Homo sapiens: one gene and its partners. The protein of the gene in region 7 interacts with the protein of the main gene of each other region in a biochemical or structural test. Each region holds a gene or a part of one and is shown on either strand. Other genes may lie near its edges.

What was found.
Region 1: the proteins of KPNB1 (region 7) and TAF3 form a complex in vitro, tested with the Homo sapiens proteins (one study listed by BioGRID).
Region 2: the proteins of KPNB1 (region 7) and KPNA3 form a complex in vitro, tested with the Homo sapiens proteins (2 studies listed by BioGRID and IntAct, with this or other methods).
Region 3: the proteins of KPNB1 (region 7) and ITCH form a complex in vitro, tested with the Homo sapiens proteins (one study listed by BioGRID).
Region 4: the proteins of KPNB1 (region 7) and RANBP3 interact in a test that uses a peptide from one of them, tested with the Homo sapiens proteins (one study listed by BioGRID).
Region 5: the proteins of KPNB1 (region 7) and NUTF2 form a complex in vitro, tested with the Homo sapiens proteins (one study listed by BioGRID).
Region 6: the proteins of KPNB1 (region 7) and PLCD1 form a complex in vitro, tested with the Homo sapiens proteins (one study listed by IntAct).

What each region holds. Positions count from the first base shown.
Region 1 is NC_000010.11:7,825,005-7,828,504, forward strand, and holds part of TAF3 (transcription initiation factor TFIID subunit 3), read left to right. Parts: intron 1-3,500. UniProt on the Homo sapiens protein: The TFIID basal transcription factor complex plays a major role in the initiation of RNA polymerase II (Pol II)-dependent transcription.
Region 2 is NC_000013.11:49,702,252-49,705,682, reverse strand, and holds part of KPNA3 (importin subunit alpha-4), read left to right. Parts: coding exon 1-62; intron 63-3,202; coding exon 3,203-3,297; intron 3,298-3,431. UniProt on the Homo sapiens protein: Functions in nuclear protein import as an adapter protein for nuclear receptor KPNB1. Binds specifically and directly to substrates containing either a simple or bipartite NLS motif.
Region 3 is NC_000020.11:34,478,273-34,481,772, reverse strand, and holds part of ITCH (E3 ubiquitin-protein ligase Itchy homolog), read right to left. Parts: intron 2,144-3,500; coding exon 1,984-2,143; intron 1,175-1,983; coding exon 1,041-1,174; intron 708-1,040; coding exon 567-707; intron 1-566. UniProt on the Homo sapiens protein: Acts as an Acts as an E3 ubiquitin-protein ligase which accepts ubiquitin from an E2 ubiquitin-conjugating enzyme in the form of a thioester and then directly transfers the ubiquitin to targeted substrates.
Region 4 is NC_000019.10:5,926,141-5,929,640, reverse strand, and holds part of RANBP3 (ran-binding protein 3), read left to right. Parts: intron 1-1,553; coding exon 1,554-1,673; intron 1,674-3,500. UniProt on the Homo sapiens protein: Acts as a cofactor for XPO1/CRM1-mediated nuclear export, perhaps as export complex scaffolding protein. Bound to XPO1/CRM1, stabilizes the XPO1/CRM1-cargo interaction. In the absence of Ran-bound GTP prevents binding of XPO1/CRM1 to the nuclear pore complex.
Region 5 is NC_000016.10:67,849,933-67,853,432, forward strand, and holds part of NUTF2 (nuclear transport factor 2), read left to right. Parts: intron 1-3,500. UniProt on the Homo sapiens protein: Mediates the import of GDP-bound RAN from the cytoplasm into the nucleus which is essential for the function of RAN in cargo receptor-mediated nucleocytoplasmic transport.
Region 6 is NC_000003.12:38,026,843-38,030,833, reverse strand, and holds the start of PLCD1 (1-phosphatidylinositol 4,5-bisphosphate phosphodiesterase delta-1), read left to right. Parts: upstream 1-1,191; 5' UTR 1,192-1,294; coding exon 1,295-1,328; intron 1,329-3,991. UniProt on the Homo sapiens protein: The production of the second messenger molecules diacylglycerol (DAG) and inositol 1,4,5-trisphosphate (IP3) is mediated by activated phosphatidylinositol-specific phospholipase C enzymes. Essential for trophoblast and placental development.
Region 7 is NC_000017.11:47,652,919-47,656,418, forward strand, and holds part of KPNB1 (importin subunit beta-1), read left to right. Parts: intron 1-3,500.

The DNA of each region.
Region 1 (3,500 bases), on a different chromosome or scaffold from region 7:
GACTTCTGTTTTTTATCATGAGGAGCAATGTTTATTGTTTGATCATATAGAACTTTTGATTATAAAATGATAGCTAATCAGGTATAATGGTCAGTCCAATTGCAGAGTTCCCTTTTTTCCTGCATAATTTTAGATGTTGATCACTAAGTTCACTAAGATTCTAAGGAGATATTTAAGTAATTTCTGGTCTCTAACACAAGTACACGATATTTTTTCTTATAAGAGTTGGAAAAGTTGCAATAAGTTCTTTCATTTTGTAAAAAATTCTAAAACCTGTATACTTCAGGACAATGCAAATGATGCCAGCAATTACTTTTACTTATGATTTTCTATTGTAAAATATACATAACATAAATGGACCATTGTAAAGGTGTGCAGTTCTGTGGCATTAAGTATACATTGTTATTCAGCCATCATCCCCATCCTTCTCCAGAACTTTTGTTCCCTCCCAAATTGAAACACTGTTCCCATTAAACATAACTCCCCATTCTCCACCACTTCCAGCCCCTGGCAACCACCATTCCTTTTTTTGTCTCTCTGAATTTGTCTATTCTAGGTACCTTTTATAAATGGACTTGGACATTATTTGTCTTTTTATGACTGGCTTACTTCACTTAGTATGATGTCTTCAGGGTTCATTCATGTTGTAGCCTGTGTCGGGATTTCGTTGTGTGTTTCGTTGTGTGTTTAAGGCAGAATAATATATGTACATTCCACATTTGTTTATCCATTCACTCACTGATGGACATTTGGGTTGTTTCAACCTTTTGGCTCTTGTGATTAATGCCGCTATGAACATCGATGTGCAAATCTCTGTTCAAATTCTTGCTTTCAGGTGTTTTTTTTTGGGTCTGTACCTTGAAGTAGAATTGCTGGATCATATAGTAATTGTCTATTTAATTTTTGAGGAAGCACCACACTGTTTTCCACAGTGGCTGTACCATCTAAGCTTCCTATCAGCAGTGCCCAAGGGTTCCAATTTCTTGCAATTCATTTCTTAGAATCGGTTCTACTTTAATAGCATTTTGAAGTGTTACCTATTTGTCTCAGGAAGTATGTTTAAATTTGGCATAAGTTGTTGTACAGTCTGTGTGTCAGGGTTGCCTCATCTGAAAAACTGGACAGCTACTGGACCTAAGTGGTAGGGATTTGTTGTGAATTGGTGGCTCATCATTTAGGTGCTCTGGATCTTAGCTGCAGTGGGTTCTACTGAATGATACTAACACACCGACAGCCCAGAACCAAAACTAGGACTTTGATCATAATCTACACTTAACTATTTGGTCCTTCTTGTCTTATTTTTATAGCATGCAAATATTCCATAATAAAATTCTCTTAAAGTGCTATGGTTATCATATTTAAATACTAGCAAGGAAATGTAACTAAGATAACAGGTTTAGATTAGGTAGTGAAGAAGTATGAAAAACAATTTAGTGTTTTTTTTGTTTTGTTTTGTGTTGTTTTGATACTGACTTCTGGCTGAAATTACTATATTACTATAGATTTTTGGGTTTCTTTTCTGGGTTATTTGAAGCAAAAAAAGAAACTCATTTAGTTTTATGCAAACAATATAAATTATAAACATTTTAAAAGGAAAATAACAAATCTTGAGAACACTACTTTTCACTTTTTATCTAACACATGTGGATTAAGAAGGAAAAATATTGCTGATTTGTAATATATGCATATGGTTTATAAGGATGCAGTAAGTGGTAGGCAGTACAGTAAGATGCTTGTCAAAACGTTCTCCTCTTCATAAGAAAAGGATATAAAATGCAATTCTTTGGTTACCATTTAAAAATATAACCATACAAGACCATTTCTTGTCATTTACAATCTGAAATATTTTTTTTTCATGGGTACAGCATGTTAGAAAGTTCCTGGTATTCTGATTAGTGGTGCAAAGTGAGGTACAGAGGTGAACCCCTTTGATAATGATGCTGTTCACCATGCTCTTTATTTTCCTTTTATTTCCTTAAGAGCCACAGACAGGCCAGACTTTGGTCTTAAAATATTATTAGCAAGGTCCTTCCATGGGGTTCCCTCTTATCAGCCACTCAGCTTGGTTCATGTCAAAAAAGCCTGTGAAAGTCTCCCTCCACAGCAGCTGGAGCTGGCGAGTGTGCACACATAGAAGGCCTGAAGGGGCAGCAGGCTGTGAGAGGCACAGCGTGGACCTCACGGCATCACTGAGACATGACTCAGCGAGTCACTGAGTTTCTGGTCTTCCCAAGTCACTTTACCTTTCTGAACTTTATATTCATCTGTAAAATAAGTGTAATAACACCTACCACATTGGGGAAATGGAGAATCAAGTAATTTTTTTTTGTTAACACATTTATATAAAATTGGACAGTGTTTAACATATAAAATACATAACAGTGGGCCAGGTGTGATGGCTTATGCACTTTGGGAGGCTGAAGCTTGAGCCCAGGAGTTTGATACCAGCCTGGGCAACGTCATGAGACCTCATCTCTACTAAAAATAAAAAACTTGGCTGGGCGCAGTGGCTCACGCCTGTAATCCCAGCACTTTGGGAGGCGGAGACGGGCGGATCACGAGGTCAGGAGATCGAGACCATCCTGGCTAACACAGTGAAACCCCGTCTCTACTAAAGATACAAATATTAGCTGGGCGTGGTGGCGGGTGCCTGTAGTCCCAGCTACTCGGGAGGCTGAGGCAGGAGAATGGCGTGAACAGAGGAGGTGGAGCTTGCAGTGAGCCGAGATTGTGCCACTGTACTCCAGCCTGGGTGACGGAGCGAGACTCTGTCTCAAAAAAAAAAAAAAAAACAAAAACAAAAACTTAGCTGGGCATGGTGGTGCACGCTTGTAGTCCCAGCTATCAGAGTCTGTGGTGGGAGGATCAGTTGAGCCCAGGGGTCAAGGCTGCAGTGAGCTATGATCACACCACAGCACTCCAGCCTGAGTGACAGCGAGACCCTGTCTCAAAAAAAAATAAAACACATGACAGCGAATATTAGTTCTCGTCCCCTTTTTCTTTTCTTGCTCTTAAATAATTTACTTTTGAATTGAAATACAATATACATTAGTGAAGTCACGCTATAAGGGGAATCGGTGTCAAGCTGCATTCAGTGGCACACCCATAGTCCTAGCTACTTGGAAGGCCAAGGCAGGAAGATCGCTTGAGCCCAGGAGTTTGAGGCTGTAGTGCGCAATGATTGAGCCTGTGAATGCCCACTGCACTTCAGCCTGGGCAACATAGCAGGACCCTGTCTCTGAAAAAAAGAGACGAATCAATGTAAAGTAGTGTTACCATCACGTGCTGAGGATCTGAGGGAACAGACTTACTAGCTGGGCTGGATAGGTACTTGACTGAGGAGCTGTGTGATTATCCGCAGTGTGAAGATGACAGATGAGGAGATGATGTGGAAGGAGTTATTGCCTGCTTTATCTGATTATATGTTTAGAAGTGAGACCTCTTTGAAAATATTTTATACATGCATATTTTTGCTTGGACTGTTACAGTTCTGATGGCTG
Region 2 (3,431 bases), on a different chromosome or scaffold from region 7:
CATTCTGATAATGGCCGGTGATGAAGCAAGCACAATAGCTGAAATAATAGAGGAATGTGGAGGTAAGAGTGGATTGATGGAAGAAGAGTATTTGAGCACTGGAACTCTGAAACATAAGTTCTTTAAAGTCAACTTACTAGACAGAAAATTACTAGGATACGTTGTTTTTAAATGATCACAGTATGTTGCTTTTCTTTATTCACTATATTTGCATTCCAAGAGGATTTTCCAGAAGACAGTAGTCCATACTTTGCAAAATCAGGTTGTGAAAGTCACTGTATAGCCTTCTAGAGATTGACAACATAGCTTTTTTTTTTTTTTTTGGAGACAGAATCTTGCTCTGTCGCCCAGGCTGGAGTGCAGTGGCACAATCTCAGCTCATTGCAACCTCTGCCTCCCGAGTTCAAGCAATTCTCACACCTCAGCCTCCCAGGTAGCCGGGATTACAGGCGCACACCACCACACCCAGTGGATTTTTGTGTTTTTAATAGAGACGAGGTTTCACCATGTTGGCCAGGCTGGTCTCGAACTCCTGACCTCAAGTGATCCACCTGCCTCAGCGTCCCAAAGTGCTGGGATTACAGGCATGAGCCACTGCGCCTGGCCTGACATTGCATTTTAGGAAACACTAATACTTCTCTTGAAGTCACAGTGCATGACAGCAAATTTAAGAGCCCTTACAACACTACATAAATTTTAAAGCTTTATTTAATCCAGCATTTCTTAAACTTCTTAACAATGAAACACTTTTTTTGTGTGTTATTACCATGTAATTCTGTGGACCCCACTTTAGGAAATATTATTTCATATAGTTGGAAAAGGTTACTGACTTCTGAGTCACCTAGATATTTTGTTTCAATCTTGTAATGATTCTTAGGATTTCCACAACTACATCCTGAAGTTATTACTGTGGCAGTTACTTTGAAATTTTAATGAGAAATAATTGTGATTTGACATACTGTATTATTCTTTAATGACATGTGAAACATATGTTAAAATTCTGTTTTTAAATGTACATGTTCAATATGTACTAACATGTTTAAACCTTAAATTAGTTTATCATAATGTCATGTTTTAGATTTTACATTTCATTGACTACTTTATATGAATATTCTATTGTTTATTTATTTATTTATTTTAAGAGAAAACAAATGCAGTAGTACCGTAGAATATTCAGACTGGGAGGATTTCTTTCTTTCTATTTATTTATTTATTTATTTATTTATTTATTTATTTATTTATTTATTTTTTATTTATTTATTTTTTTTTTGAGACAGAGTTTCGCTCTTGTTGCCCAGGCTGGAGTGTAATGGCTCACCGCAACCTCCGTCTCCCGGGTTTAAGCAATTCTCCTACCTCAGCCTCCCTAGTAGCTGGGATTATAGGCATGCACCACCACGCCCGGCTAAATTTTTGTATTTTTAGTAGAGGCAGGGTTTCTCCGTGTTGGTCAGGCTGGTCTTAAACTCCCAACCTCGGGTGATCTGCCCGCCTCGGCTTCCCAAAGTGCTGGGATTACAGGCGTGAGCCACTGCACCCAGCCGGGAGGGTTTCTTGAGAAGAAATTATCCCACAGATTTTAAGGAGTCTTGTCCAAGGTGACAGAAGTAGGTTGTGATAGAAGCAAAGTTAAAATCCAGATCTTCTTACTATTAAGATAATTAAAAATTGTAGTCAGGTTCATAACACAGTAAGTTTGAGCAACTTAGAGAATTACTACTCTTCAGCTTTTTATCAATATAGTTACTTTTGTCTATAGGAGTAATAGGATACATATTAATATTTTATAATTGTATAAAGCACTTTGGCAACGATTTCCCCCATTCTTTTGGTTTATTAGTATATAAGAAAAAATTGCAACTATTTTAAAATAACCTTCAAAAAGACATTTCAAGGAAGAATATTAAGGTGTGAAATTGATAAACATGTATATGATGTGTGGAGTAAATATATTGGAAATATAAATGAAGGCATTCTATGATATCTGTTCTGGAAATATTTTCTCCCAGGTTCATTGTGGCTATAGGACATAAGACCTCTATTCATTTTTTAAAGAAAGTTTTTCAAAATTTAAATCTTTATATCTTTTATACCAATTATAAGGTTCTAAAAACTCATTTTGTGGTTATATAAAGGTAATAACATTTGGAAAACAAAGAGAAAGATACAAATTACTTTATGAGGCAGTAAGATTAATAAGATTGGCCGGGTGCAGTGGCTCACTCCTGTAATCCCAGCACTTTGGGAGGCCAAGGCGGGCGAATCACGAGGTCAGGAGTTCGAGACCAGCCTGGCCAACATGGTGAAACCCCGTCTCTACTAAAAACACAAAAAATTAGCTGGGCATAGTGGTGGGCACCTGTAATCCCAGCTACTTGGGAGGCTGAGGCAGGAGACACTTGAACCCAGGAGGTGGAGGTTGCAGTGAGCCGAGACGTGCCACTGCACTCCAGCCCTGGCTACAGAGTGAGACTCCGTCTCAAAAAAAAAAAAAAAAAAGAAAGAAAGAAAAAATGCCCAGGCGCAGTGGCTCACGCCTGTAATCCCAGCACTTTGGGAGGCCGAGGTGGGCAGATCACGAGGTCAGGAGATCAAGATCATCCTGGCTAACATAGTGAAACCCCGTCTCTGCTAAAAATAGAAAAACTTAGCCGGGTGTGGTGGCGGGCGCCTGTAGTCCCAGCTACTTGGGAGGCTTAGGCGGGAGAATGGCATGAACCCAGGAGGCGGAGCTTGCAGTGAGCCGAGATCACACCTCTGCACTCTGCACTCCAGCCTGGGTGACAGAGCGAGACTCCGTCTCAAAAAAAAAATAGATTAGTAAATTTATATTAAAGCACTGTGGGGGAGTTGGTTCTAGTACTGTCACAAACTTGCCATATAACTTGAAATAAGTCTCTTTACATATTTATGCCACAGCTTCCCTCTGTCAAATGGATTGTTTGGGTGTTTTTTTAGACTGTCTGCCTCAGGGATCCGGGTACCTCAAGGGCTTCTAAGAAGGAAAAAATTAGTGGGATTCTGGTCCTCCAACTAGAAGCAGCCCCGTGTTTTGTCTGTTTTTTAGACAAACCACTATCTTAGATGGGGGAGCAGTGTGTTCTGAGTTCCTTAGGATTTCTCCATGATTAAAATGAGTGTGGTTTTGATTAGTATCTCCTTATCAATTAACCAGTTATTTTGATTATTTTATTTTTACCAGGTTTGGAGAAAATTGAAGTTTTACAGCAACATGAAAATGAAGACATATATAAATTAGCATTTGAAATCATAGATCAGTATTTCTCTGGTGATGATGTAAGTAGATATTAAAATAGCGTGTATCTTCATGTAAATGAAAACCTATACATGATGTAAATTTACTAAGAGTTTTCCTTTTATTATTAGGATGACATAAGTTTGTACTGTATTTCTATTAGACATTCCATCAG
Region 3 (3,500 bases), on a different chromosome or scaffold from region 7:
CCAAAGTGCTAGGATTACAGGCATGAGCCACCATGCCTGGCCGATGATGAGGTTTTAAAAACAGGAGTTTTCCCTGTACAAGCTCTCTCTTTGCCTGCTGCCATCCATGTAAGATGTGACTTGCCCCTCCTTGCCTTCCACCATGAGGGTGAGGCCTCCCCACCCTCGTGGAACTGTAAGTCCATTAAACCTCTTTTTTTTATAAATTGCCCAGTCTTGGATATGTCTTTATCAGCAGCAGGAAAGTGGATTAATACACCTTACAATATTCCCCATGAAAATATCTGCATATATATTTGAGATTCTTTTTAATGACATGTTATACAGCATAGTGATTACAGAGTTGATGTTTAAAAGAGTGATCCTGCATGACTTTTATCCTTAAAACTCTTTTAAAAACACTTAAAAAAAAACTTTTTAGAAATGAAAAATGACTGCCTACATAGGATATTGATTAGTACAGAGACAAATACTATTTTTGGAGATACTCTCCATTAGTATTAGTAAGCAATTATCAATGTGCTGTAGTCAAACAAAAAGTGAAATGTGAAAAGGAGCACTCTCACCTGATGTATTCCTCTTTATTTTCTTCTGTTACAAGAATATTGCCACCATTAGGTTTCAGATCATGACTCTTAATTTCACCTAGAATTTCTTTGTCAACGGAGAAGTACATTTCCAAATCACATTCCTCAATATTGTTTTCCCTGCACAAATGAAATTAGCACTATTTGTTATATCCACCAATTCAATCATAATTTATAAGTTTTTAACGAAAGGCCCATGTTCTTAAATAATTAATATTAAGCTATAACATCAAAATAAGAAGAAATAAGATTCTGTTCTAAGGTCATATTATTGCCGAAGATCTTGGGTGTATTTTTGTAAAATTTATCATATTGAATAAAAAGACAGGTTTGATATATAGATCATTTAAATACAATAAACCAATTATGTGCCTACAGTTTGGATAAGTTATCAATACTACACGGAATGCATATAACTATATTTTAATAAATTACATGGAAAAAGAAACTTACTTAACCCAGATGAGAGAATTGTAAAATTCTGGATCAATAGATTCTAAATCCTTGAGTCCAACTGGTTTGTTCAAGATACGCTTATAGAATGGTAAAGAAAAACCCGTGTCTATGAATTTCCCATGGAACAGAGCCTATGAAAAAAGGAAACAAGACCGCTTAAAATAACTGTACAATAATCATTTTATTTCAATATATTAGATGTACTCTTCATTTAAAAACACTTCCCTGGGTCAGGCATGGTGGCTCACGCCTGTAATCCCAGCAATCTGGGAGGCCGAGGTGGGTGGATCACCTGAGGTCAGGAGTTCGAGACCAGACTGACCAACATGGAGAAACCCCATCTCTACTAAAAACACAAAAATTAGCCGGACATGGTGGCACATGCTTGTTTGTAATCCCAGCTACTCGGGAGGCTGAGGCAGGAGAATTGCTCGAACCTGGGAGGCAGAGGTTGTGGTGGGCCGAGATCACGCCATTGCACTCTAGCCTGGGCAACAAAAGTGAAACTTTGTCTCAAAAAAACACTTCCCTGGCTGGGCACGGTGACTTATACCTGTAATCCCAGCACTTTGGAAGGCTGAGGCAGGTGGATTACCTGAGGTCAGGAGTTCAAGACCAGCCTGGCCAACATAGCAAAACCCCTTCTCTACTAAAAATACAAAAATTAGCCAGGCATGGTGGCGCACACCTGTAATCCTAGCTACTTGGGAGGCTGAGGCGGGAGAACTGACTGAGTCCAGGAAGCAGAGGTTGCAGTGAGCCAAGATCGTGTCACTGTACTCCAGCCTGGGTGACAGAGCAAGACTCTGTCTCAAAAATAAAAAACAAAACAAAACAAAAAACCACTTCCCTTTCTCTCATATGATCTGTTATGGCACCTAAGAGAAAATTTAGTATTGCTGAATAAGCAAAGTAAACATAATTCTTGACCTGCACTTACCATGGCAATAAATCTGCCAATAAAACGAAAATATTTCAGGTGATCTGGATTGATGTAAGAAGCGGGGTTTATCTGCAAGCAGTAGTTATCCTTCCCTGCATATTCAAACAGGCAATACATTGGGTTCAACACTTCATGTGACAAAAGAAAGAACCATTCTCTGAAATCAAAAGAAAATTTACGATGAAAAATCTTGTAGGTTACCAAGAAATCAAAGAACAGTGCTATAAAGTTCTCAGGGATCTATACCCCTCAGCTAGTGATAGTTTTCTAATCTCATGTTGATTTTTATTGCTTCTGTTCAAACTCACATCTGTTTCACAGAGTTGGTAGTATACACCATCTTTGGTAGATGGTAATATATACATTATTACATTTCAAAAAATCTAAGACAACATTGCACCTTTATTTGATGAACGACTAAATTGTATTTTCCAATTTTACCTGAGATACATCGTAATTTCAGAGATATTATAAAATGAAAATATTAGTCTTAGAATCAATGAAATACTATTCATAGGCAAATTTAAAATTCACTATTTACCCATGTGAGTAAAGTGGCTGAAATCAATCTAATATTCCATCTATTACTAAGTCCCATAATAATCCCCATCAAGTGCCACTACTCCCTACACGTTAAATCAATATGAAAATTCTTCCAATTTCACAGAGGCAGTAAAGTTCTTAATTCCAGCCACTCACATATTAGAAAAATGCTGAGACTCTAAGTCAAATATTGTGAAAATATGAACCAATATTAACATAAGATTATGGTTACTAAAACTACGTAACATGGGTGATCTGGGGTAATACATGTGGCATAAGCCTGTAATCTGGATCTCTTTTCCTGTTAGTTCATGGCCTCTTGTGATAAGTGTATCTCATGACACACTTTAATATTGCTAGTTTATTTTCTTATTAGGAATGAATGATTGCTCTCCTCTTCAATTGCCTTTAACTTATACAAAATTACATGTTTCTACTCATATTTGTTATTTATCTATGATTATATCATATATTTTGAAATAATTTTATTTAAACTCAGAAACATAATATAAATAAGAACTACTAAAATGTAGCCACCAATTAGCGTGCACACAAAGACACAGGCTCTGAACTAGGTCATTAATAAACAATATTTCTACTCTTCACAATAATCCTAGAAATGTAGATATTAATATTCTTATTTTACAGATGAAAATATTTGCCCAACATCACACTATTGAGAGCAGAAAAAGATTCAAATCCCGTCTTGACCCCAAAGTCCTTGTCTTTGCACAATGCCAGCTCTACGCAAATTTTTAACCTGGTGTGATATATTATCATGGAATAAGCAAAGCAATTCTCATTAGAGACTATCTTCTAGGGTCCAATATTAAGCTCCAATATGAAGAAAGCAGAATTAAGACTTTCAACTCCTATTTTGTACAACCTTCTATATTTTCATGACAAATATACTAATCTCAGTTGGAAACTGAGTAACTATTACCTGTATCAGTAATCTGTGGTGGGGAAAA
Region 4 (3,500 bases), on a different chromosome or scaffold from region 7:
GAACTCCTGGTACCGTCTTTGGGAAAGTGGGGAAGAGGCTTCCCCTCCCGCCCCACACACACACAGAGTCTCAGACTGGTTACAGGCCTCGGGATTCGTTTATCAGTTTAAGCGAATCCTCTAAGCAGGCTCCGCCAGGTCATAGACATACCCTGTAGTCAGAAACATTTTGCTGTTTGCCTGCCCCATCTCAGGTGACTCTGTGGGCTCCACCCACCCGGGATTAGCACCAGTCGGTGTGAGCAGGGGGCACACAGCGCAGAAAGCCAAGAGCCAGGGAGTGTTTCTGCTGGACGGGATGCAGGCGGCCCCAGTGGGGCTGGGGATTAGCCCATCCTCTGAGGACTTCCAGGTCGCCAAACACGTTGTGTGTTTAATTTTAAAAAGCCACGTTCACTCTTGCACAGGCACAAGGATGCAGCGTGAAGTCAGCAGTAGCAGAATTTCTAGGGAGCACAGTAGAGAAACATTTACACTTTTCACTTCCTTCACAGTTGGACCAGAAAGTGCCCTCAGCGCTGTGATCCGCTGATTCTGGGCCTGGCATTGTAACTCCAGGCTTCCCTGCCCGCTGGACACGCTGAGCCAGTCAGAAGCTGCCTGCAGCCTTTCTCACCTCCGAGTTCACGGTTGTCAGGTCCCTTCACGACATCTCCCAGGAAAACACTCCCTGCCTCACGTTCATGTCCACTGTACACATCGCCAGAGACTCCAAAGATCTGCCAAAAGCCTTTTAAAATTTCTTTTCAAATTCTACAACACCTTTTTCATCATGTGGTATAGGAAAGACATATACAAATTACTAGCAACTCCATATTCCATTATCTCAAGATAAATGCATTTGGTCTTAGGATATTTAGTTACAAAAAAGTCATGCCTACATGTTGAAAATATTTACACAAAATGGAAATCCTAGAAAGTAACAAGCAGGAGCCACCCTCCAGCTAAGAGGTTCCCGGGTAACCTCCGTCAGTAGTTTGAATTCTCTCTCCCGACTTATTTTCCTGGGCATTCCTCAACACACATACACACCACACATACACACACACACACACCACACACACGGGACTGGATTGGCTTTAACAGAAATGGAATCGCACTTCCGTGTCCCACAAGCTGCTCTCTTCTCTGATCCATGTATTGTGGGCATGTCAGAGGCCTACCTCCCTCTCGGTGGTAATAGCTGTGCTGTACTTTTTTTCCCCCATATTTTCTATTGTAAATTATTTCATTCCTTGGCCAATGATGAGCAACCAGGTTATTTCCTGTCCTCTGCCGGCACTAAGGCTTCTGCAGGGCACAGGTGTTTCTTGTTGTTTGGAGACAGGTTTTTGCTCTGTCACCCAGGCTGGAGTGCAGTGGTGTGATCTCAGCTCACTACAACTCCCAGGCTCAAGCAGTCCTCCTGTCTCAGCCTTCTGAGTAGCTGGGAGTGCAGGCACATGCAGAGGAGACGTGTGGAGTACATGATCTGGTGTGGGATTGCTGGGCATCCGTCTGGGCCAAGTGTGGCACTGGTTTTGATTACTCTGTTTTGTTTTGGTTTTTGATAGGAGAAAGAGCCCCAGAAAAATGAGTCCAGCAATGCCTCTGAAGAGGAAGCCTGTGAGAAAAAAGACCCCGCCACACAGCAAGCCTTTGTATTTGGGCAGAACTTGAGGGACAGAGTTAAGGTATGTGAGCTGTTGAACCAGCACATTGACTTTTTATGCCTTCCCCAGGTTCAACAGCAGGCAAGTAGGTAGATTTTCCTTTTAACAGGGGAGGGGAGCGTGGGACAAAGAAGGTGTTAGCGAGGCAGCCCCATGGCTCACGGCACAGTCTGCTGCTGGTGTGCGTGTGCTGGGCCCTGGCACTTCCCCACCAGCAGCCCAGGCTTCGGAGCCCTCACCTGCAGTGACTTCTCAAGTCAGGGTCCCTGGTTCTCATGGTAGCGGGGACAGGGAAGGTGACTGAACCTGAGGCCTCAGGCTTTCATAGCAGAGAAGAAAGACAGCACGGTCCAGTGTTCTCAGCTCTGCCCAGAGGTTTCTGTTCCCGTATTTCAGGGTTTCTCTGTTTCAGCACTAGCAGCATTACGGCTGGACCATTCTTAGTTTCTGAGGAGTCGCCCTGGGCACTGCAGGGTGCTGAGCAGCATCACTGGCCTCCACCCACCCAATGCTCCTGACATCTGACAACCACAAATGTCCCCAGACGTGGCCAGTATTCCCTGTGGAGTAGAATCGCCCCCATTAAGAACTGTCACCTTATTTTTTTTTAAGTGGGGCAGGGTGGGGTGACAACACTGTCTTCTCTCCTGAAAGGGAGCAAAGCGTCTGCCACCTCTTGGCTGCCCTCCAGACATGTGGTCCTAGTTTGGAGATTGTGTGGTGGGGAAGGGATGGCAGTGGTTGGAAACAGTGGCCCTGGACCATGCACTGGGACTCTAGGAAGACCAGGGTCAGCCAGCACCACCTTTCCCAGCCACAGACATGGAATGTGCTACGGCATCTCTAGCAGCTCCACTGGCAAGAAGCTTCTTTCAAAGCTCGAGAGGCGGTATCGGTGGCTGTGTCTAGAGACTTTTGTGGTTGTCACAACTGGGAGGTACTTCTGGAGGTCAGGGATGCCACTCCGCCCCTTGCAGTGCCCAGGATAGCCACACCACAGGGAATGTTCTGGGCCCAGTGTCAACATGTCAGTAGTGTCGACGGGGAGGGCCCTGAAATAAACAAAAACCTCTCTAGCATGCAGAAAGCACCGGCTTGTGTTTTCTGCTTTCCTTTCTGTTACTCACCGTCCAACAGAAGCCCAAGTCGAGAAACGTGGAAAGTTGATGTTGCTGTTGCCATGGCTTTAGGCAAAATAATGAGTCCCTCAGGGGCTGTTCCCTCCAAGGAGGGAGGGCAAGAGGCGGGGAAGGGCTTGGCCTGTGGAGTTCAGGCCCTGTGGAATCTCTGCCTTGAGTCTGGGGAGACAGCTGCTTTGAATTTGGTGGGGTTGGCTTCTTGCAGAAGTCAGAGGCTTACGTGCACTTCGCAGTCTCAGTCAAATCCCAGCCTCTCCTTCCAGGGCAAACTTGAGCCATGGATTCTTTTTTTTTCTTTGGACACGAAGTCTTGCTGTGTCGCCCAGGCTGGAGTGCAGTGGCATGATCTCTGCTCACTGCAACCTCCACCTCCTGGGTTCAAGCGATTCTCCTGCCTCAGCCTCCCAAATATCTGGGATTACAGGCGCCCACTGCCACATCCAGCTAATTTTTTGTATTTTTAGTAGAGGTGGGGATTTCTCCATGTTGGCCAGGCTGGTCTCGAATTCCTGACCTCAAGTGATTCCCCGCCGCCTCAGCCTCCCAAAGTGCTGGTATTACAGGCACGAGCCACCGCGCCCAGCCAGAGCCATGGTTTCTTAACCCTCTGAGCCTCTGCTTCCTTGTTGGTCAAACAGGGTCCCTAACATCCCCCTCCCAGGCCTCGTGAGGATTAAAGCAGATCGTGCATTTGACAGACTCAGCATAG
Region 5 (3,500 bases), on a different chromosome or scaffold from region 7:
CAGGCGTGAGCCACCACGTCCGGCCTTATTTTTATTTTTTGCAGTGATGTCATCTCCATATGTTGCCCAGGCTGGTCTCAAACTCCTGAGTTCAAGCGATACTCCCACCTCAGCCTCCCAAAGTGCTGGGATTACAGATGTGAACAATTGCCCAGTGATCACAAGGGTTTTCTTCAGGGACAAAAAGATACTTTTCCTTCTCCAACGTTACTCAAGAGTAGGAGGAATTCAGGTCCCTCCCTCTCATTCCAACCTCTAGAAGTTCCCTGTAACTTCTTTTTTTTTTTTTTGAGATGGAGTCGTACTCTGTCTCACAGGCTGGAGTGCAGTGGCGCGATCTCGGCTCACTGCAAGCTCCGCCTCCCGGGTTCACGCCATTCTCCTGCCTCAGCCTCCCGAGTAGCTGGGACTATAGGCACCCGCCACCACGCCCGGCTAATTTTTTGTGTGTTTTTAGTAGAGACAGGGTTTCACCATGTCAGCCAGGATGGTCTCGATCTCCTGACCTCGTGATCCACCCGCCTTGGCCTCCCAAAGTGCTGGGATTACAGGCGTGAGCCACCGCGCCTGGCCGTTCCCTGTAACCTCTTTGTCTGAGGTCAGCTAGCCATTGCTAGGCATCCTGATCCTGAGAATTCGTTAAATGTTTCTGGAACTTGGCGGGCCATCTAGGTCTCAGATATAAGAGAAGTGGCCTGAGGTTCTCCAGGATCTATCTGCATCCTCTATTCATGTAGGGCTGACTTGGAAGTGGGACCTGGCATGCGGTGGTTGGGATATTGCCGCACAAGGATGAGGCAGGATACAAGATGCCTCAGTTCTCAATTAGCTCAAAATTATGTCCCTTCGTGTATAGGAGCCTATCTGCCTATCACTATTTTTTTTTGAGACAGAGCCTCGCTCTGTTGCCCAGGCTGGAGTGCAGTGGTGCAATCTCAGCTCACTGCAACCTCCGCCTCCTGGGTTCAAGCAATTCTCCTGCCTCAGCCACCCGAGTAGCTGAGATTACAGGTGCCCACCACCACACCCAGCTAATTTTTGTATTCTTAGTAGAGATGGGGTTTCACCATATTGGCCAGGCTAGTCTTGAACTCCTGACCTCAAGTGACCCACTCGCCTTGGCTGCCCAAAGTGCTAGGATTACAGGTGTGAGCCACCGCACCTGGCCGAGCCCATCTCTTCTCTCTGAGCCATGTCTTGTTTTATTCCGTTGCCTTTGGAGTTGGTGGTTTGGGAGGGGAATAATTACTTAAGAGAGACACAGAATAGGCAGGGTGCGGTGGCTCATGCCTGTAATCCCAGCACTTTGGGAGGGCGAGGTGGGCGGATCACGAGGTTAGGAGTTGGAGACCAGCTTGGCCAATATAGTGAAACTCTGTTTCTATTAAAAATACAAAAATTAGCTGAGCATGGTGGCAGGTGCCTGTAATCCCAGCTACTTGGGAGGCTGAGGCAGGAGAATCGCTTGAACCAGGGAGGCGGACGTTGCAGTGAGCCAAGATTGTGCCACTGCACTGCAGCCTGGTGACAGAGTGAGACCCTGTCTCAAAAAACAAGGGAGACCAGAATTTTGTTTTTTTTATTATTATTATACTTTAAGTTCTAGGGTACATGTGTACAACTTGCAGTTTTGTTACATATGTATACATAACGCCATGTTGATGTGCTGCACCCATTAACTCGTCATTTACATTAGGTGTATCTCCTAATGCTATCCCTCCCCGCTACCCCCGCCCCAGGACAGGCCCCGGTGTGTGATGTTTCCACCCTGGAGACACAGAATTTTCAAATTTCAGAACAAGTCTGGGCGCAGTGGCTCACGCCTGTAATCCCAGCACTTTGGGAGGCTGAGGTGGGTGGATTACTTGAGGTCAGGAGTTCAAAACCAGCCTTACCAACATGGAAAAACCCTGTCTCTACTAAAAATATGAAAATTAGCTGAGCGTGGTGGTGCATGCCTGTAATCCCAGCTACTCAGGAGGCTGAGGCAGGAGACTCGCTTGAACCTGGGAGGCGGAGCTTGCAGTGAGCTGAGACTGTGCCATTGCGCTCCAGCCTGGGCAACAACAGCGAAACTCCATCTTGAAAAAAAAAAATTCATAACTAGAAGCCACCTTATATCAAAAATTCTAGGATTCAGCACCAGCTCTGAAGCTGGAGCATTGCTTGAGGCCAGGAGTTCAAAACTAGCCTTGTCAACATAGCAATACCCATTTCTACAAAAGAAAAATAAAAAAATAGCCAGTGTGGTTGTGGTGTTGTATACCTGTAGTTCCAGCTGCTCAAGAGGCTGCAGGAGGTCAAGGAACCGTGAGCTATGATCATGCCACTGCACTGTAGCCTGGGGACACTCTAGCAAGACCCTGTCTCCAAAAAAAAGGCTAGGTTTCCCTTAACAAAACACTATTATCTTTTTTTCTTTTTTTTTTTTTTTCACCCAGGCTGGAGTGAAGTGTCACTCTTGCCCAGGCTCAAGTGCAGTGTCGCAGTCTCGGCTCACTGCAACCCCCGCCCTCCGGGTTCAAGCAATTCTCCTGTGTCAACCTTCCGAGTGGCTGGGATTATACCCGCCTGCCGGTATAATCCGGCTAATTTTAATATTTCTAGTAGAGATGGGGTTTTGCCATGTTGGCCAGGCTGGTCTCAAACTCCTGACCTCAGGCGATCCGCCCACCTCAGCTTCCCAAAGTGCTGGGATTATAAGCTTGAGCCACCATGCCTGGCCTTTTTTTCTTTATTTTATTTCTTTATTTTTTTATTTTTTGAGACAGAGTTTCGCTCTTATTGCCCAGGCTGGAGTGCAATGGCGTGATCTCGGCTCACTGCAACCTCTGCCTCCTGGGTTCTAGCGATTCTCTTGCCTCAGCCTCCCTAGTAGCTGGGATTACAGGCATGTGCCACCACGCCTGGCTAATTTTGTATTTTTAGTAGAGATGGGGTTTCTCCATGTTGGTCAGGCTGGTCTCGAACTCCCGACCTCACTCAGGTGATCCACCCACCTTGGCCTCCCAAAGTGCTGGGATTACAGGCATGAGCCACCGCTCCCGGCCCTTTTTTTCTTTCTTTTTAAAGTTTTTCTTAGGGTACATCAGCAGCCTTTTTATTTTATTTTATTTTATTTTAATGAGATAAGGTCTCACTCTTTTACCAACAGTGAGACCCTGTCTTTAAAATAAATTAAATAAATAGAAACCAGCCAGGTATGGTGGTGGGTGCCTGTAGTCCCAGCTACTTGGGAGGTGAGGCAAGAGGATCACTTCAGCCCAGAAGTTCAAGTCTGCAGTGAGCTGTGATTGTGGCACTGCTAAAGTGCAGTTGGTGCCATCTCAGGTCACTGCAGCCTTGACCTCCTGGGCTCAAGCAGTCCTCCCACCTCAGCCTCCTGAGTAGCTGGGACTACAGGTGCGCACCATCACGCTTGGCTAATTATTATTATTATTTCTGAGACGGAGTCTCACTCTGTCTCCCAGGCTGGAGTGCAGTGGCACGATCTCGGCTCA
Region 6 (3,991 bases), on a different chromosome or scaffold from region 7:
ACTGCAGGACAGGATTGGAGCTGAGTGCCAGGTAAGGGGTGAAGCCCCGTCTGTGGAGAGGGGGCATGCAGAGCAGGGGGCTCTCCAAAGCCCAGAAGTCCTGATCCACTTTTAACCCCCAGAACCAGAAGACTGTCCTTCAGCTGTTTCACATCCCTTATTCAAGGCCACCTAGGGCCCAGAAGAGGAGGGATTGGGGTGAGCCCAGCCCCCTCCCCGCAGAGCTGGTCCAACTAGCTTTGCCTGACTCTCACATTGGCCTTATCAGCCCAGGAGGCCTGGGTGGCTTCCTGGGAGGCCCTCTGGGGGCTCTCTGACACCAAGAGCCCAGTTTTCCCAAGGGACTCTCCAAAGGGGTGGTGGGCAACAGGATCTAGGGACCCTCCCAGGGTCTGTGGTGGGAGGGGTCTCTGGGCAACCTATAAAGGGGGTTTTCTGGGTCCCAAGAGTTAGGGGGTGGGTCTGCATAGGGACCTTGCCCAGACAGCCCCTTGGGAGGCCACCTGAAGAAGGGACCCTGGGGATCCTCCCCCTCGGCTGCATGGATCGCTGGGGTTTTGGGATATGAGTGGCTCAAAAGTGAAATCCGTGCACCTGCTTGCTTCCCCCTCCCACACCCCCAACACTCCACCAAAGGCACTCTTGGGGTTAGAAACCTCCCAGCGAGAGGGAAGGGGACCCTCCTCCCGACAAGGTCCAGGTATTGCTCTCTGAAGACCTTCTAATCGTGTCCGTGCACCCATTTCGCAGAAGGGAATGCGAACGCTGGGAGCTGCGGCTGGAAGCCTGGACGCCGCGTCTCCCTAGCGCAGCAGCCCGGCTGGGCGTCGGACCTTACACGATCCCTTCCCCGGGATGACGCCGGATTCTTTCCAGCATCACCCCGACCCCAGCGAGGCGCCCACAACAGGGCGTGGGGCCCGGCCGCCCGCGGTAATGACAGGGCCCGCGGCCCGTGGGTGGCGGCGGCGGAGGAAGCTGGAGGAATCTGGCTATTTCTGGTCGGGGCGCGCCCGCTGGCCCGGGCCAGGGTTGGCCAGTCCTCCGGGCCCCCAGCTCTGCCCTCCCTCTCGCGTCCCCAGAAGGGGGCGGGGAGAGACGAGGGTTGGCGGGCTCAGGGGGCGGGGGCGCAGGGCAGCGGGGGCGGGGCGGTGTCCCGGGACCACCCCCGGCCTCCTCCCACCGCGGTCCATTCAGGTCCCTGCACCGCACTCCGCTCGGACCCCAGGCCGCCGGTGCTGTCGCTACTCAAGTGAGTCCCGCGGTGCCCCTCCCGCCGCGCCGCCCGTCGGGCATGGACTCGGGCCGGGACTTCCTGACCCTGCACGGTGAGTGCCTGGCCCGCGCGAGCGGGAGACCCTGCAGGGGTGGACCCCTGGAAAGCTGTTCCGGGCCCTGGACAGGGAGCCCCCAGCTCCTTCGGCCGCCTCCACACCACCCCGGGCCCGCCTCTCTGCCCCTTCTCCGGACTGGGAAAATCTCAGCCCGCGGCTCCCTGGGTGGGACTGCCGGGCACGACCCTGGGCGTTTCCAGGCTTGTCCGAGATCTAGCCCGGGGGGTGGGTGGGCGGGCGGTACGGGTCTAAAGACTTCCCTCCGCCTCGCGGACCCCCTTGTCCTGGTCATGAAAGTCTGGGCTCCACGATCCCGCTCGCACGGAGGGGCGGCGAAGGAAGGAAACAGCATCCAAGAACGACCAAAATTCTCCTTGCCCCATCCGGGCCGCCCCAGAGGCTCCCCAAAGCCTGGGCGTGCCTGGACCGCGTCAGGCCGCGCGGGTGTGGCGGAGCAGGGGCTAAGCGGGTGGGGAGAGGAGGTGTGCAAGGTTAACCGTGGTCGGGCCGTGCAGCCTTAACTGCCCAGCGCAGAATAGTCAGCGATGCTCAGGCTGAAAGAAGCAGCACGATCCCCTCATCTGCGACCCTCCTCGGGGGACAGGGCCAGGTCTCAGCCGGAGCTGCCTGCTCCATCCTTTGTCCAGCGGAGCTTTGTTTCCTCCAATATGAGCCAGCTCTTTGCCCTTTCGCTGTCCCTCCAGCAGCGAGGGGAGCCTGGGCTCCCGAAGGCAGATCTGGAGGCCTTCTGGGAGGCGGGAGGTTGGGGAGGGTAACTTTGGGCGCCTCTTTGCTCCAGGACAGGCACTCACTCACTCTTGGTGGGGGCTTGCCCTCCTGCCCTCCCAGGTCACTTGCCATCTCAGCAAACCCTGCTCCTTTCATACCAATCACTGCTTTACTGTATATCCCTCTCTTTTTTAGTACCCTTGGGGTTGGAGGCTTTAGTGGCCACCACCCATCCATCTAAACTGTTCATGGACATAATAGATGGGAAAGAGAAGGGCAGAGTCCTCTAGCCTTCCACTAGAGTCCCCCTGGAATTTAGAGGGACTTAGAGATGTTCCCATCAGCCAGCCTCCAGTCTATCTCGTGTTCTGCAGTTGGCACAGACCTGGTCCTCCTGGCCCAGAGAGACCTTGCTCTGTGCCCAGAGCTGTTGCTTTTACACCAATAGCCTAGGCTCCTTAAAGCCACCTTGTCTAGATGAGTCATGGAGTCCCTGCCCCTTCCAGTGCTCCCTCTTCTTTCTTCAGGCCAGAGGTGTCTTTCGTGCGCCTGCCAGACTAGCAAGAAGGGAGGCTGGGCAGCTGAGAGGACACAGTGGACATCTCTGCTTTCTCTCTGACACAGCGTCATTCCTTGGCTCCTGTTGGAACAGGCTTCATCCTCAGTGTCTGTGCCTTTGTCCAGTTTCTCTCCTGAGGCAGCCTTGATATCTTTTCCATGGAGGAAGACACATGGAGGCTCAGTCAGGACCTCCCAGTCCTGTGGCATAGGCTTGGCTGCCCTGGCCCACCCCATTTGAGACCAGCCTCCCAAATGCCTAACTCAGTCCAGCCTTTCCTGAAGGGTTGACATGAACACTGTGACCCCAAGCTGTTTTCCCTGAAGGCCCTGCCACTTCTAGCTCATCACCCAAAATTACCTCAACTGCCTTCTGTCCACACTGCAAACCAGATGGGGAAATAAGAACCTGTCAAGGAGAATTGTTGGTGGGAGGGGGTGATCACTGTGCCCTGTGCTGTTCCAGGTTGTCTACACTTGCATTGGAGAGTCTGCATCCGTTTCACAGTGTGGGTGCCCCAGCACTGGATGTGCTGCAGGACCACACTCTCTGGCCTAGGGCTCCACACTCTCTGGAAGGAGCCCAGAGGGACTCCTTCTGTTGGCCTGGGGAGCTATGCGGCTCACCTAGATGTGACATGTCCCTTCTGTCCTCACCCCAGATGCATGCAGAAGTAATGTAGTTTACTGGCATAGATTCTGAAAGCAAAGTACCTGAGTTCAAGTCTTGGCTTTCTCATCTCAGATGAATCCCTTGACTTCCCTGTGTGTCAGTTTCCTCATCTGTAAAATGGGGGATAATACCATCTACCTCATAGGGTTGCTACGAAGATTGAATGAGATAATATCTACACAGCAGTTAGAACAGTGCCTGGTACCCAGTGAGTACTATGTTCCTGCAGGAGGCCCCCTCCCCAAATTTCTATGCCCTATGAGTTGCCATCTGTAGTTCTTTGGGAGATGATGGGGGCATCATAAGGTAGTTCCTAGTCATGGAAAATAGGGCCAGAACTAGATTCAAGAGCGAGCCAGCCAGCTCTTTCTAGTGCCTCTGAAGCCCTCAGACTGATGCGACAGCATCCATCCTCCTTCCTTCACCTTACTTCTTCCACTCTTTATTCTGGCTATGCCTGGACTGGCTTCTCTAGCAGGTCCCCCGATGTGCCCCAAAGGACATTACCTCCCAGGGCCCTCCCCTCACTGAACACCCCCCACATACACACTAACTTTTCCTACACCCAATCCCTTTTGCCCCCACCCCTGCAAGAGGTGCCGTTTGTAAAAACAGAAAATAGAGGGGCCTCATCTTGGCCCCAGTAGACCTGGGCTCCAGTCCTAGCTTTGGTTCTACTTACTGTGGGTCTGAGAAT
Region 7 (3,500 bases):
AGAAATCGCTTTCTCAGATCTTTTGCTATTTGCATGGGATAGAGCTAACAGTGTGATAGGTTTCTGGGACCTCAACTTTACCTAAAGATAAAAATTGTCTTTGTCTTAAATCTTTCTCAACACAGCTTGTCCATTCCCATTGATGGATTGGAATTCTTTTTAGATGACTGAGGTAGGCTGCAGCAGTTTGGGAAACTTTAATTACGTGCCATAATTGGTAAAATCTGTTTGGCAAATGGGAGTAGTGTACAAATTGGTGCTACATTTGTATAAAAATTAGGGAATTTGTTAATAGGTATTTCCAAGCTCTCCAGAAATTCCGATTCGGTACTTCTGGAGTACAGCTCAGGGAATTTTTTTTTTTTTTTTTTTTTGGAGACAGTCTTGCTCTGTTGCCCAGGCTGGAGTGCAATGGCATGATCTCGGCTCACTGCAGCCTCCGCCTCCCAAGTAGCTGGGATTACAGGCACCCACCACCATGCCCAGCTAATTTTTGTACTTGAAGTAGAGACGGGGTTTCACCATGTTGGCCAGGCTGGTCTTGAACTCCTGACCTCAGGTGATCTGCCTGCCTTGGCTTCCCAAAGTGCTGGGATTACAGGAGTGAGCCACCTCGCCTGGCTGTTGTTGTTTTTAAATTAAGTTCTTTAGTGATCTGTCTTACATGGGTAAGGCACAAAGAGGAGTGAGTTAAATATCTGTGCAGTCATCATTTTGTCCTTGGTATTTGAGTGGAAACTAGTGGGGAATTCCTACATATGTACTTGTGCAGGACATGGTTATGCACATCATACTTGCTATTTCCTGGTTCTAGATATCAGCATTAGGTAAAGTAGTGCCCTGTAAGGCAGTAACTTCTGTATCTGGTTGTGTACCTCCTTCTGTCACCAATCTTGCATACCCATGATAAGGAGCCGGGTTATTAAATCCAACTTGGTTTCAAATCGTTTTGGAGCATGTAGAGCTGTTTCTATTCATGTTGGTTCTGCTTGTGTAATAACAACATTTTAATTCCTTCTCCCTCAGCTAAGTGACATAAATGGAAGTATATTCTATCACTGGAAATCTCGATACTGATAGTGCCCATTCAGTTTCTCATCTTCCTTAATTTACACACTAGTAAATGGGATAAGATGTAATTGGAATTGTAATTGGCTTATTTTTTGGCACATCACTCTTAACACCAACCCTTTAAAAAAAAATTAGACAATAATGGCTGGGCGCAGTGGCTCATGCCTGTCATCCCAGCACTTTGAGAGGCCGAGGTGGGTGGATCACCTGAGGTCAGGAGTTCGAGACCAGCCTGGCCAACATGGCGAAACCCTGTCTCTACTAAAAATACAAAAATTAGCTGGCTGTGGCGGTGGATACCTGTAGTCTCAGCTACTCTGGAGGCTTAGGCAGGAGAATTGCTTGAACCTGGGAGGCGGAGATTGTGGTGAGCCAAGATTGCGCATTGCACTCCAGCCTGGGTGACAGAGTGACACTCCATTTCTTAAAAAAAAAAAAAAAAAAAAAATTAGATAATTTGTATAGGCATGGTTAAGCCCTCGGGCATGAGAAAAAAGCTAACAGTACCTTGGCCTTTTTCCCTTTCATAGCACAACGATAACTAATACTAAGTTTCACTGTTGGTGATCTTTTTTGAAATCTGGATATTGGGGCACAATTGGGAGCTAGTTTCTCTTTTCTGATAATTGAATATTACTATTAAGGTTACCTCTAGTTTAAACAGAAAACTTTTAGTACTCAGGAGGTGGACATCCGTAGTTTCTAAATCACCTCAAGTAATATGGAGTCTTCAGAAAGCAATCTAAAGGAAAAAGGTAAAGGTAGAATGGGATTCAGTGCACTCCACATATGTACTAGGAGACTATGTAGTGTGGTGTGAAGGCACCCTGGACTTGGGTTAATAATACCCATTCAGCCCCTGATATTTTGGACAATTCACCTTGTTTTTCCCCCTCATTCCCTCGTGTCTTTGACATACCGTTTTTGTCCATTCTAGCTCTGCTAGTCCTCGAGAGCAAAGCCTTTCATTTAACATCAATCAGAACTGTTTGTAGTTGGGTAGAGCTGATGGGGGTGGGGGCCAGGGATGATGATATACCGTATAAGAAGGAAAGGGGGAGTTCATTATTGGTGCTAGCTGCAAAGCAGGATACTAAGTGATCCGACCCAGTCAGCAGAGCTGGCCTGAATATCTGGCAGCTATTCTTTGTCCCGTGTTCATGCCAGAACAGTTAACTGTTTGCCTTTGAGTGGACTACTGATTCTTAGTGAGTTCATTGACTGAATTAGCTGATCACGGTAATAATTAGCTCTAGGTCAATTGTGGCTTCATCTTTTATCATACCTGTGCCTTTACTCTTTACATAAATGGTGGCGTGGTTACCATGTCAAGCGAGACATGTTTAATGACAAGTGGATCTTGTTTTGACATCTGGCTAGATTTTGGTATCTGTCAGTGATAGAACAGTTCTTTGATTCTTGGGCAAACAGAACAAATCCTTTCAGATTGGAAGTTATATAAAGATTAGTTCATAGGTGTTATTAACATCAGCAACGTTGTTTTTGTATTTAGTGATGTTGTTACTTGACCAAGGCCTTTCTATGTAAGTCACCCCGAATGCTGAGTTGTTAGTGATTAGAAGGAAAAAGTTTTGTTTCAGCCCACGTCTCATGAGTAAGATCTCCTTGGATCAGATTAGACAGTGATCTACTGTGAATAAGACCCACCTGAATGCCCCAGAACTAGCTTCATTCTAGTGTCCATGTCTGTCTACAAAACGAGGGTGTGAACATCCTTTCCTTATAACAGCAACAATGAGCCTGGAAGATGAGTTTTGTCCCCATCTCTCTCCTTTGCCATTTACTGCTACCTCCTCTTGTAACTTCTGGTTTCCCACCTCGTGTTGAAGGTTGAAGTGAGGTGGGATGACTGGTTTTGTTTCTAGGTTCTAGGGCAGTGTTGATTATGCTGATGTTGCTACTGAGGCTGGTTTTTTCTGACAGCCTTTCCTACTTCTCCGTATTATAGATAAGAATTCTGAGGCCAGGCACAGTGGCTCACGCCTGTCATCCCAGTACTTTGGTAGGCCGAGGTGGGTGGATCACCTGAGGTCAGGAGTTTGAGACTGTCCTGGCCAACATGGTGAAACCCCATCTCTACTAAAAATACAAAAACTAGCCGGGCATGGTGGCAGGCACCTGTAATCCCAGCTACTTGCTGGGGGGAGCTAAGGCAGGAGAATCGCTTGAACCCAGAAGGCGGAGGTTGCAGTGAGCCGAGATCGCGCCATCATGCTCCAGCCTGGGGGACACGAGCGAGACTTTGTCTCAAAAAAAAAAAGAATTCTGAGACAGCTGCCTGGGCACAGTGGCTCACACCTGTAATCCTAGCACTTTGGGAGGCCAGGAATTTGAGACCAGCCTGGGCAACATAGGGAGACCCCCATCTCTACTAAAAACCCAAAAAAGTTAGCTGGGTGTGATGGCAT